Linked DNA regions of Homo sapiens: all the other regions are linked to region 2. The links come from fine-mapping of genetic effects on gene expression. A gene starts in region 2. Each other region holds a variant in brackets. All regions are shown on one strand. Distances are from middle to middle.

Region 1 (2,500 bases), 130 kb before region 2:
TTTAAGGGACATTTTAAAAGTTGTTCTCACTGTGAACACTTTGGTTTTTAGGTAAATAGGACTTTGGCTTTTCCTGTTCTAGGATGACTGGATTTGAAAAGATTGTGACACTTGTTTAAGAACTTCCCTTTACCACAGAATCCCACTCACTACACACTTTCTTAGGTTGCAAAAGTGATTATTTCTTTTTTTTCACATTATACCATAAGGAGTAAAAAGTGATTATTTCTTATTATCTTTTTTATTGGCTGTTTGCTGTTTGGAAATGTGCAACTACATGCTTTATGGTATCATCTTGTCTTATCTTTACTCTAAGACCATGACCTTTGCCTGATGTAGTGGATGTTATTTAATTTTAAGAGACAAGGCCTCTGCCCCGCTACCTATCACTCACCACCCCACTCCCAGGTTCTACCCTGTGGGGTAGCTTAGGCTAATCCTGACTGGTTATTTGTTCACTTGTCTCTGGGTGTTGTATTTCACACGCATTTGTGCCAAGTCTATACACCGCCACAGAAAGTATCCGTGTCCCCAGTTTATATACATTAATATTCTCAAAGGGCCAAGGCAGCACCAAGATGGAAACGGCCATCTCTCAAAGTACCTCCACTTCCTCACTGGCCAGGCCGTCCTAATCCCCTGAGGTCTGGCTTAATTCCACAGAACTCTCTGGAAACTTCTCTCAAGCACTTCATAAACATTCTTCCTCTTGTAAAATCCCTTTGGACCTAATTCCTGGGTTTGTTTTTTTCCCCCCAGCCACCGGGCCTCTTTTCAATTCAGGTATATTAAGGGTTCTTTTCTCTTGAACTTTTCCTCCTTGGATATTACCATTTTCTGGCTTTCCTCCTGTGTCTCTGCTTTTTTTCCTCCTTCCAGATTCTGTGTGGTTTATTTGGGGGGCAGGGGGTGGGGGTAGGGACGGGGTTTGAGTCAGGGTCTG[C/T]GTCTATTGCCCAGGCTAGAGTGCAGTGGTGTGATCTAGGCTCACTGCAACCTCTGCCTCCCAGGCTGAAACCTCCAGGGGCATACCATCCTCTCTTCTCGGCCTCTGGAGTAGCTGGGACCACAGACAGGCACCATCACACCCAGCTAATTTTTTTATATTTTGTAGATGCCAGGCGAGTGGGTCTCACTTTGTTGCCCAGGCTGGTCTCAAACTCATGAGCTCAAGCAATCAGCCTGCCTAAGCCTCCCAGAGTGCTGGGATTTGGCCTGGTGCGGTGGCTCACGCCTGTAATCCCAGCACTTTGGGAGGCCAGGGAGGGCGGATCAGGAGGTCAGGAGTTCGAGACCAGCCTGGCCAATATGGTGAAACCCCATCTCTACTTAAAATACAAAAATTAGCCGGGCGTGGTGGCACGTGCTTGTAGTCCCAGCTACTCGGGAGGCTGAGGCAGAAGAATCACTTGGACCCCAGAGGCAGAGATTGCAGTGAGCCGAGATCGTGCCAGTGCACTCCAGCCTGGGCGATAGAGCAAGACTCTGTCTCAAAAAAAAAAAAAAAAAAAAAGTGTTGGAATTACAGGCATGAGCCCCTGTGGCCAGCCAGTACATTGCTTGAGGCTTAATATGTAGACCTTATCTATTTTCTCTTTCCTTTCTTCCTAGGAGGACTCATTTAACATATTTTATATACCAAATTTTATTTTATTTTATTATTTATTTTTGAGACAGAGTCTTTCTGTCGCCCAGGCTAGAGTGCAGTGGCGTGATCTTGGCTCACTGCAACCTCTGCCTCCCGGGTTCAAGCAATTCTCTGCCTCAGCCTCCCAGGTAGCTGGGATTACAGGTGCCTGCCACCAAGCCTGGCTAATTTTTTGTATTTTTAGTAGAGGCGGGGTTTCACCATCTTGGCCAGGCTGGTCTTGAACTCCTGACGTCATGATCCACCCGCCTCAGCCTCCCAAAGTGCTGGGATTACAGGCATGAGCCACCGCGCCCGGCCTTTTATATACCAAATTTTAGAGCAGAAAGGCACTTTAGCCATAATGTAGTCAGCTTCATTTCGCAGATGACTTCATCTTTGACCTCTACATGGATAACTACAATGCATTCATTCAACAAAAATCACTGAAGGCTTCCAAGTACCAGGGATTAGTGCCATAAGGAAATATTAGAGAATTTTCAGGTTGATACAGGACATGCACAGAAATAACCAAGGTACAAGACTGATGGTGAAGGCCTGGTGTGGTGGCTCACGCTTGTGATCCCAGCACTTTGGGAGGCCGAGGCAGGCAGATCACCTGAGGTCAGGAGTTTGAGACCAGCCTGGCCAACATGGTGAAACCCTGTCTCTGTTAAAAATACAAAAATTAGCTGGGTGTGGTGGCAGATGCCTTTAGTACCAGCTACTTGGGAGACTGAGGCAGGAGAATCACTTGAACCCCAGGAGGCAGAGGTTGCAGTTAGCTGAGATCATGCCATTGCACTCCAGCCTGGGCGACAAGAGCAAAACTTCATCTAAAAATAATAATAATAATAATAATAATAATAATAATAA
Region 2 (2,746 bases):
AACATGTAAAAGCCTCATTCCTTTTAATGCATGTGCAGAGCGGTGATGGTGTGAAGACGCTGGCACTTCAAACGTGAACGTGGCACGAGCCCTGCCCTCAAGGAGCCCACAATTTTCCCTCAACTCTAAAAAAGGATGTCCTCCCTGGACAGTGTCTGTAAAACACAGTGACAAAGTACTTCATAGCTCTGGAGAAAGAGCGAGGGTGGAAACAGACTTTGCCCTTACATTTGACGCCCAGTAACCATAACAACCGATGGTTTAAGTAACTATCAACCCACTGAGGGGCTAAGTTTTCCAAAAATCGTTTTCAAAAGGGGAAGACTCCCCTGCACCAACTCCCATGGCAGCCGTACGCTCTAGGCAGCGTGTGGTGCAATGTGGCCAGCCGTTCCCCGCCTTCTCCGGTTCCACCGTATGGTTTCCGTGCTCAGCAGCCAGCAGCGACGGCGTCCACGGCCACACCGCCTCCCCGCAAGGCACCTGGCGCTAGGCCTCAGCCCAATGTCACTTGTTAACCTTCCGATCCCCCGGATTTCGGCACGCCGCCGCCTCCCTGCTAAAGCACACAAACCACCCCACCGCCACCCGCGTTCTCCAGGAGTTGGAGAAAAACCACCGGGGCGCATACAACCTCTGACAGATTCGAGTAAAAGTAACTGCGGTTCTCGACTTTCAAGCATTTCGCGTCGCCGGTGAGGGGGGCGGCAGGAACCCGGGGCCCCATTCATAAAATTGCAAGCCGTTTTCCTCTAGTTTGCGCGTGACGGTGCCTCCCTGCCCGGGGCCGGGGACCGCAGGCTGAGGGGACGGGGCCGGCAGCTCCTCCCGCCGGAGTCGAGCCCGAGCCATCCGGCGGGGCCCCGAAGGAAGGGATTGCCCGGGGGTGTCGCGGGTGGGCGTCCCCTTCAATACCTGAACCATGACAGCGGGGTGGGGGGCCGAGCCCCGCCACGCCAAGGGCCGCCGGACCCGACCGGTACTTTGAAGCCCGCGGGGTCGATCCGCGCCCAGCCCGGGCCTTATCCGCGGGGCGCTCCCTCCACCGCCCCCGCCTGGCCCTGAGACTGCTCACCCAAGATCCGCTGGCTGCCTCATTGTACTATGCCGGCGCCCGTGCTCCCGGCCGCGCGACTCCGGCTTCGGCTGGGGCACCGGCCGCGGTCCTGCTGCCCTGCCGCCCGCCCGCCCCCGGGCACACGCCGCCCCGCCCCGCCGGCGGACCCGCCCCGCGCCCGCGGCCGCCGCCGCCAACCAGAGGGCGCGGGGGCGGAGCAAACGGCACGCCAGGCCCAACCAATCCAGTTCTACCGCGCGCCGAGGTGAGGCCGCGGAAATGGGGGAGCGATTTGTCAGGTCTGTTAAAGGGGCCACCGCCCTTGGAGCTAGGGAGAGGAGTGGTGGGGAGGGTTACCTGGAAGAGCCCCAGGTGAGGGGGACAAAAGCTTCACTCTCCCAACGGGGCTGCACACTGTCCCCAGCTCTTTGCACTTCTTAATTTCCTCTTCCTGCAGTCTAGCAGCAACAAGTGCCCTTGAGACGAGGGCTGGGGGTTGAGGTGGGGTGACTGAGGCGCGGAGAACCAGGGGTATCCCCCTGGGCAAATTCACTCGATTTGCATTTTAGAGGGCCATCAGACGTATCTATCCCCATCCAACTGCAGACATTGATTTAAAAAGGCAAATTCCCAGTTTCCCGCATTATGTACTTCCCCCACCTGACTACCACACTACCACATCCTATCCTGAACTAACTCTGTTACTAGTTTTTTTGTTTGAGACGGAGTCTCGCTCTGTCGCCAGGCTGGAGTGCAGTGCCGTCATCTGGGCTCACTGCAACCTCCGCCTCCTGGGTTAAAGCGATTCTCCTGCCTCAGCCTTCCGAGTAGCTGGGATTACAGGCGCGTGCCACCATGCCCAGCTAATTTTTGTATTTTTAGTAGAGACGGGGTTTCACCATGTTGGCCAGGATGGTCTCGGTCTCTTGACCTCGTGATCCGCCGGACCCAGCCTCCCAAAGTACTGGGATTACAGGCGTGAGCCACCGCGCCTGGCCACGAGTTCTTAGAGCTTAGAACTTATATAGTATTAACTACTCATTTTTAGAGAGGCAATATCTGAGGCTCAGAGAGGTAAAGTGACTTCTCGAGGTAAATTCTCACTTAGAATGAGCTTCCTGGGATGGCAATGCCCATTGTGCATTTATCTTCTGCGAACCTGGGTTGGCTGGCAGAAGCACTGGCACATAGGGAGAGTTCCCCCTTCCCCCGTAGTCCTTGCCCCTCTGCACTTCCCACCCACCACAAGAAAGGACCAAGACAACAAACAGATGTGTCAGTGTGTCTCCTGCATTAGTGGGTCCCAAATGTCAGATCTTCAACGTCAGATCATCCTGGAGGGTTTTAACATGAAGATCTCTAAGTCCCACCCCAGAACCTGTAATTCAGTAAGTCTGAGATGGCCTTCGACACCCCTCCCTCCAGGTGATTCTAATGCAAGTGGTACAAGGACCACACTCAGGTGCGTGTTTTGAGTCTATCATAGTCATGAAATTCAAATTCAATTGGCAAAATGAAAGCCAAACTCCTTTCATCCTCAGAATTAGTAATATGGTTGGGAGACTTGCTAGTAAGGGAGGAGGTCACCTACTAAGACACTCATAACAGAATAAGTCATGCCAAGAACTGAGTGTAGAAGGGCACTGGACCCAGATGAAACAACATCTGAAAGATTGAAATCCTCAAGCA
Region 3 (2,746 bases), 82 kb before region 2:
GCCCATTTCAGAAGACATGGATCTGCTTCACCCTTCTTAATGGACATGGATTATTCTCTCTGGGCTTTTCGAGTGCTGTGACGTTTTCTGTCATTAACCAAGACATTTTCCACCACTAGGTCCTGGATGGAAGGGCAAGAGTCTGCAGCGGTGAATGCTTGGCCATGCCATAACTTGCACTGTTTTTTTGAATCCCTTTTTTCTCTGACTGAACATCTCCTTCCCAGCCCCAAGGGTAATTCATTCAGCTTTTCTGAGGTTACTGTCTTTGAGTCCCATCCGATTATTTATACAGACTTCTGCATAAACACTCATCCAAGGGCAATGACCACCTGGCCCCTCAGACAGTACTAAGTTGCTGCCCACGTAAGACACCACGTGTCTTATTTTAGATTTGTAGGTTATACAAGAGAATAAGTTACTTTTTCCCTTCCCTAGAGGGAGCATCTACCCTTTATTAGCCTTTCTTTACAACCCTAGTTACTCACAGGAAACAGTTTTAGCACAAAATAGCAAGAAACAAAGGCTATTTCACAATGTATGTCCAAGCCAATGGCATATGATGTGGTAAACAAATTTCTGAAATAACCGACAAGCAGGTTGTTTTTTCAACAGTTCCTTTTTCCAAAATAAGCTTCTCTCCACAGACTCATTGGGAACAAAGAAAAATTCCAGAGCAGAACATCGATAATGCATCAAAGAAGCTTTTATGAGCAAAACCTGGATTCAACAGCCTGCTAGGAAGGCCCAACGAATGTCATAAAAATTTAAGAGTTTAAAGAAACAATGTGCATACATTTCCTAATATTGCCATTTGGCTATAGGATGAAATGTGTGGAGGATATTCATTTCGCTGTCTCAACTGTATAAACACACTAAGAAATGGTAACTTTCCAAAAATGGCTTCCAAATAAGTGTAGAGAAAATTCAATGGTTTGAAGCTGAAGCAAGCCCATCAAAACTGCGTCACTCTTGGGATATGTGTTATTTAAAACTAACCTCTAAAACTAAAGTAGGACAGATTTACTGAAGTCTGTGGTGTAACATTTCCTATTACAAATGGCCAGGAGGCCAGCCCAGTTTTTCTATTACAAAGAGTGTGTAGTGCCCCCACTCCTTTTTGGCCGCACCCAGTGTACC[G/A]CCAGGGGGGTTGCACAAGGGACAGTGTGGTCCAGGAGATGACACAGCGGAGGACCCTACTCCTGTGTGTTTCTTTCCCTTGATTATAAAAACAATGCATATTCACTGCAGAAAACACCCATAAACCTGCTACTCAGATTTAAAACATTTTAAACATTATTTAAAACAGTTTTACTATATTTTCTTTCAGTCTCTTTTCAGTGTATATATACATTTAAGAATACAGAACTTTTAAAAAGCAAAATTAGGCCGGGCGTGGTGGTTCATGCCTGTAATCCCAGCACTTTGGGAGGCCAAGGCGGGCAAATCACGCAGTCAAGAGATTGAGACAATCTTGGCCAACATGGTGAAGTCCCGTCTCTACCAAAAATACAAAAATTAGCTGGGTGTGGTGGTGCGTGCCTATAGTCCCAGCTACTCAGGAGGCTGAGGCAGGAGAATCGCTTGAGCCCAGGAGGCAGAGGTTGCAGTGGGCCGAGACCGTGCCACTGTACTCCACCCTGGCCACAGAGCAAGGCTATCTCAAAAAAAAAAAAAAAAAAAAAAAAAAGCAAAATTAGATCTGGCTACATGGTTTTGTATTCTTTGAGAAGGAGTCTCGCTCTGTCGCCCAGGCTGGAGTGCAGTGGCGCGATCTCGACTCACTGCAAACTCCGCCTCCCAGGTTCAAGGGAGGCTACCTCAGCCTCCCAAGTAGCTGGTATTACAGGCATTCACCACCACGCCTGGCTAATTTTTTGTATTTTTAGTACAGACGGGGCTTCTCCATGGTAGTCAGGCTGGTCTCAAACTCCCAACCTCAGGTGATCTGCCTGCCTCGGCCTCCCAAAGTGCTGAGATTACAGGTGTGAGCCACCATGCCCGGCTGGTTTTGTATTTTTTTTTTTTTTTACAGTTTTACTTAGATATAATTCATAGATCATACAATTTTTCCATCCTTCCATAGCTGCTGTGGAAAACAGTATTGCGGTTCCTTAAACAATTTAAACAGAATTACCCTTAAGATGCACTAATTTCACTTCTGGCTATATACCCCAACAAATTTGAAAGCAGGGTCTCAAAACAAGATATGTGTACACTGATGTTCAGAGCAGCATCATTCACAATAGCTAAAATGTGGAAGCAAGCCAAGCACCCACCGATGGAGGAATGGATAAGCAAAATGGCGTACGTACACAATGGAGCATGATTCAGCCTCAAAAAGGAAGGCGATTCTGACTTACGCTACCACATGGATGAATCTTGAGGTCATTAGGCTAAGTGAAATAAGTCAGTCACAAAAAGACAAATACTGTATAATTCTACTTATATGAGGTACTTAGGATAGTCAAAATCCGAGAGACAGGGAATGGTGGTTGCCAGGGGCTGGGAGGAGGGGGACAGGGGAGTTACTGTTTAATGAGTATAGAGTTTCAATTATACAAGTTGAAGAGAATGGTGGGGGTCAATGCATAACATTATGAATGTATTCAATTCTACTGAACTATACATTTTAAAATGATTAAGATGGCAAACTTTATGTATTTTACCACAAAAATAATTTTTAAAAATAGAGTACATTCAATAGTTTTCAGTATATTGAGAGTTGTGTAGCTATCACCACAGT
Region 4 (2,746 bases), 76 kb before region 2:
CAGGGACCCCAGTGAACATAGCATACAATATGCACATGTAACACAAACCAAGGAAACAAAGCTCTAAAATCAGGTTTGTTTTTTAATTTGGGGAAATCTTTCAAAAGGAAGCATTTTATTGGATAATTTTCTTAACGTCAGTGCACAATTCTCCTCTTGATTTTCTTGAGTCTGATGAGAGTCCAGACAGCTGACAGCCTCGCATTTGGAGGGAGGGGAAACTCACCAGTGGTAAACAGGACCATTTGTAGAAAAGTTTTATATCACCCCACTCTTGCCTAGAGGGAGGTCTGCTTCCCACTAAAGCTGGGGTGACTCAGTGCAGAGGTAGTGGGTCGCAGGCCAGCAGAGGCATATGGTCTTTTATTGCCCTGACAAATTCAAACAGATCAGGTGAGTGACCTCTTCCACACTGAAGAGGATCAACGGATCAAGAGCAATGGCTTGCTTCTCATTAAGAACAGAAATACACATGGTCATTGTAAGAGGTCAAACACAGCCAAGGGCGGTGGCTCACGCCTGTAATCTCAGCACTTTGGGAGGCCGAGGCAGGTGCATCTCTTGAGCTCAGGAGTTCAAGACCAGACTGGGCAACATGGTGAAACCCCATCTCTACAAAAAATACAAAAATTAGCTGGGCATGGTGGCACACACCTGTAGCTCCAGCTACTTGGGAGGCTGAGCCCAGGAGGGTGAGAGGATCACTTGAGCCCAGGAGGTCGAGGTTGCAATGAGCCATGTTCACGACACTGCACTCCAGCCTGGGTGACACTGCGAGACCTTGTCTCAAAAAAAAAGAGGTCAAACACCTGGATATGAAAGAGAGGTTAAGTGTCCCCCAGGCAGAGACTGTGACTCTGAAGAGTGTGCAAAGTAGAGGCAGGAGGCCTCAGGCCAAGCAGGCTTTCAGAATAACCCAGCAAAATAGTCTCAGCGAGCCAAGGGGCCCCTGGGTTCTCAGGTGAGGTTTGCACACTCCATCACTTAGCAACTGTGTGACTAGGCTACCTAACTTCATCAAGCCTCAGTTTCTCCGCTTACAAAATGGAGACAATCCTGTCTAGTTTGCAGGACTGTTCAAGAGAGCAGAGTAATTCTATTAAAGTGCCTAACAGAGCCTGGCATCTGGCAGCTTACAGGAGTTATCTTATCAGAGATGATCCTAAGTCCGTGTCCGGTTACACTTTGTAAAGAATGTTCATGGTAAATCTTCAAAAGCACTGGGCATAGCCGAGGAGACTGAGAATTTGAAAATACAATGGTTTTGGAGGAATGAGACCTGAATCACCAGTGATTCTGCAACAACCCCTAGTGATCATCCAGTTGCTCAGGTCAAAGTGCAAATCTTGGCCTCTGCGTTCTCTCACGTCAGCAAATCCAGCCAGCGCCTCCTGCCAAGCACACCCCAGCC[G/C]AGCCTCTCCTCACCACCTACTGTCACTACCTTCACATTGATCCAGCCTTCACTATGACAGTCACCTCCCACTCCTTTTTTCCCTCTACAGCCAGTTCTCCACCAAGAGCCACTTATCTTTTTATACTTAGATCAGTCAACATCATACCCTGCTCAAAACCCTCCCATGGCCTCCCATCCTGATCCTCCAGCCTCCCTACCTCCCCATTTCCCTTGCTCACTGTCCGGCCAGGCCTCCTTGCTGTTCCTCGAATATTCCAAGCACATGCCTACAGCGGGCCCTTGGGTTGCTGCTTTTCCCACCTGGAGTGCTCCTCCCACACCCATCACCATGGCTCACTCCCCCGTGACCAACAGGTCTGTGCCCAAAAGTCACCTCCTCAAAGAGGCCCTTCCTGACCACCCATCCAAAATAGCAGAGAAAAACAGTACAAACTTTTTAAAATTAAAAATAAATAAATACATAAATAAATAAAATAGCAGTTCTGGCCACTTCCCCTCCTCCCTTGTCTGACTTTATTTTCATTCTTCCCACCACCTGGTGCTTGTTTCTTGCTGTCTTCCTGAGTAGATTACAAGTTCCCCAAAGGCAGGGTCCTTCTCTGTCTTGTGTACCACTGTTATCCCAGTGCCCACAACAGGGCTTCGGAGCACTTACGCATGAAGAAATGTGTCTAAGTCGAAAAGTGAAAAAGGTCCGGCCCAGCAGCCAGCTTTACCTTCTTCCCAGCTGTGGGGCTGCTCTCCGCACTCTGCAGGGGGCTCCTCTGGGGGCTTCGGCTTTCCTGGGGGACACACCTGCCCATGTACACGCTGTAGTCGAGAAGCATCTTCTGCCGCACGCTGCCTGCCAGCTCCTTCTGCTTTGGCTGTGACATGATCTCCTCCACACTGCCTTTGCTGCTGCTGCGGCTGTGGGTCAGGTGCCCGGACGGACTGTTGTGTCTGCTGTGTGCAGGCAAAAGCCCTGGAGCCAAGAAGACGGGGGCTATTCACACAATGAAGAAAACAACTGCAAAGTAAGCGGACTCCCTGAGAAAAGCAGCTACAATGCTATCAAATGACTGTTTAAAAATATTTATAAGGGGCTGGGCATGGTGGCTCACGCCTGTAATCCCAGCACTTTGAGAGGCCGAGGCGGGCGGATCACGAGGTCAGGAGATCGAGACCATCCTGGCTAACACAGTGAAACCCCATCTCTACTAAAAATACAAAAAATTAGCCGGGCGTGGTGGTGGGCGCCGGTAGTCTCAGCTACTCGGGAGGCTGAGGCAGGAGAATGGTGTGAACCCAGGAGGTGGAGCTTGCAGTGAGCCAAGATCATGCCACTGCACT

Direction of the effects. Positions count from the first base shown, and alleles are read on the strand shown. Sizes are in standard deviations (SD) of each study's normalised expression. Not every link is listed here.
For the expression in pancreas of the gene that starts at base 1,168 in region 2, C is the low allele of the variant in region 1 and T is the other (small effect, 0.28 SD a copy in GTEx).
For the expression in liver of the gene that starts at base 1,168 in region 2, allele G in region 4 goes with a lower level than allele C (small effect, 0.32 SD a copy in GTEx).

Evidence for each region. PIP is the estimated chance that this variant, and not a neighbour inherited with it, causes the effect. A credible set is the group of variants that fine-mapping cannot tell apart.
Region 1: its variant is the best candidate, but not a certain one, in a credible set for the expression of TEX2 in pancreas (GTEx, PIP 0.80).
Region 3: its variant is the best candidate, but not a certain one, in a credible set for the expression of TEX2 in whole blood (TOPMed, PIP 0.70).
Region 4: its variant is the best candidate, but not a certain one, in a credible set for the expression of TEX2 in liver (GTEx, PIP 0.58).

The regions. Positions count from the first base shown.
Region 1 is chr17:64,134,533-64,137,032 of GRCh38, forward strand. No RefSeq gene overlaps it. Among named protein-coding and RNA genes, the nearest start is that of ERN1, 5.6 kb to the left of the region's middle. The variant C/T (reference allele first, on the strand shown) is at 944.
Region 2 is chr17:64,262,093-64,264,838 of GRCh38, forward strand. It overlaps TEX2 (testis expressed 2), which reads right to left and starts at 1,168. Exons shown (of 12, transcript NM_001288732.2): 1 at 1,076-1,168. RefSeq lists a silencer at 756-1,365.
Region 3 is chr17:64,179,809-64,182,554 of GRCh38, forward strand. The region is part of intron 5 of TEX2 (testis expressed 2); the gene reads right to left. Among named protein-coding and RNA genes, the nearest start is that of SNORA50C, 35 kb to the left of the region's middle. The variant G/A (reference allele first, on the strand shown) is at 1,141.
Region 4 is chr17:64,186,038-64,188,783 of GRCh38, forward strand. It overlaps TEX2 (testis expressed 2), which reads right to left. Exons shown (of 12, transcript NM_001288732.2): 5 at 2,131-2,378. Among named protein-coding and RNA genes, the nearest start is that of SNORA50C, 41 kb to the left of the region's middle. The variant G/C (reference allele first, on the strand shown) is at 1,412.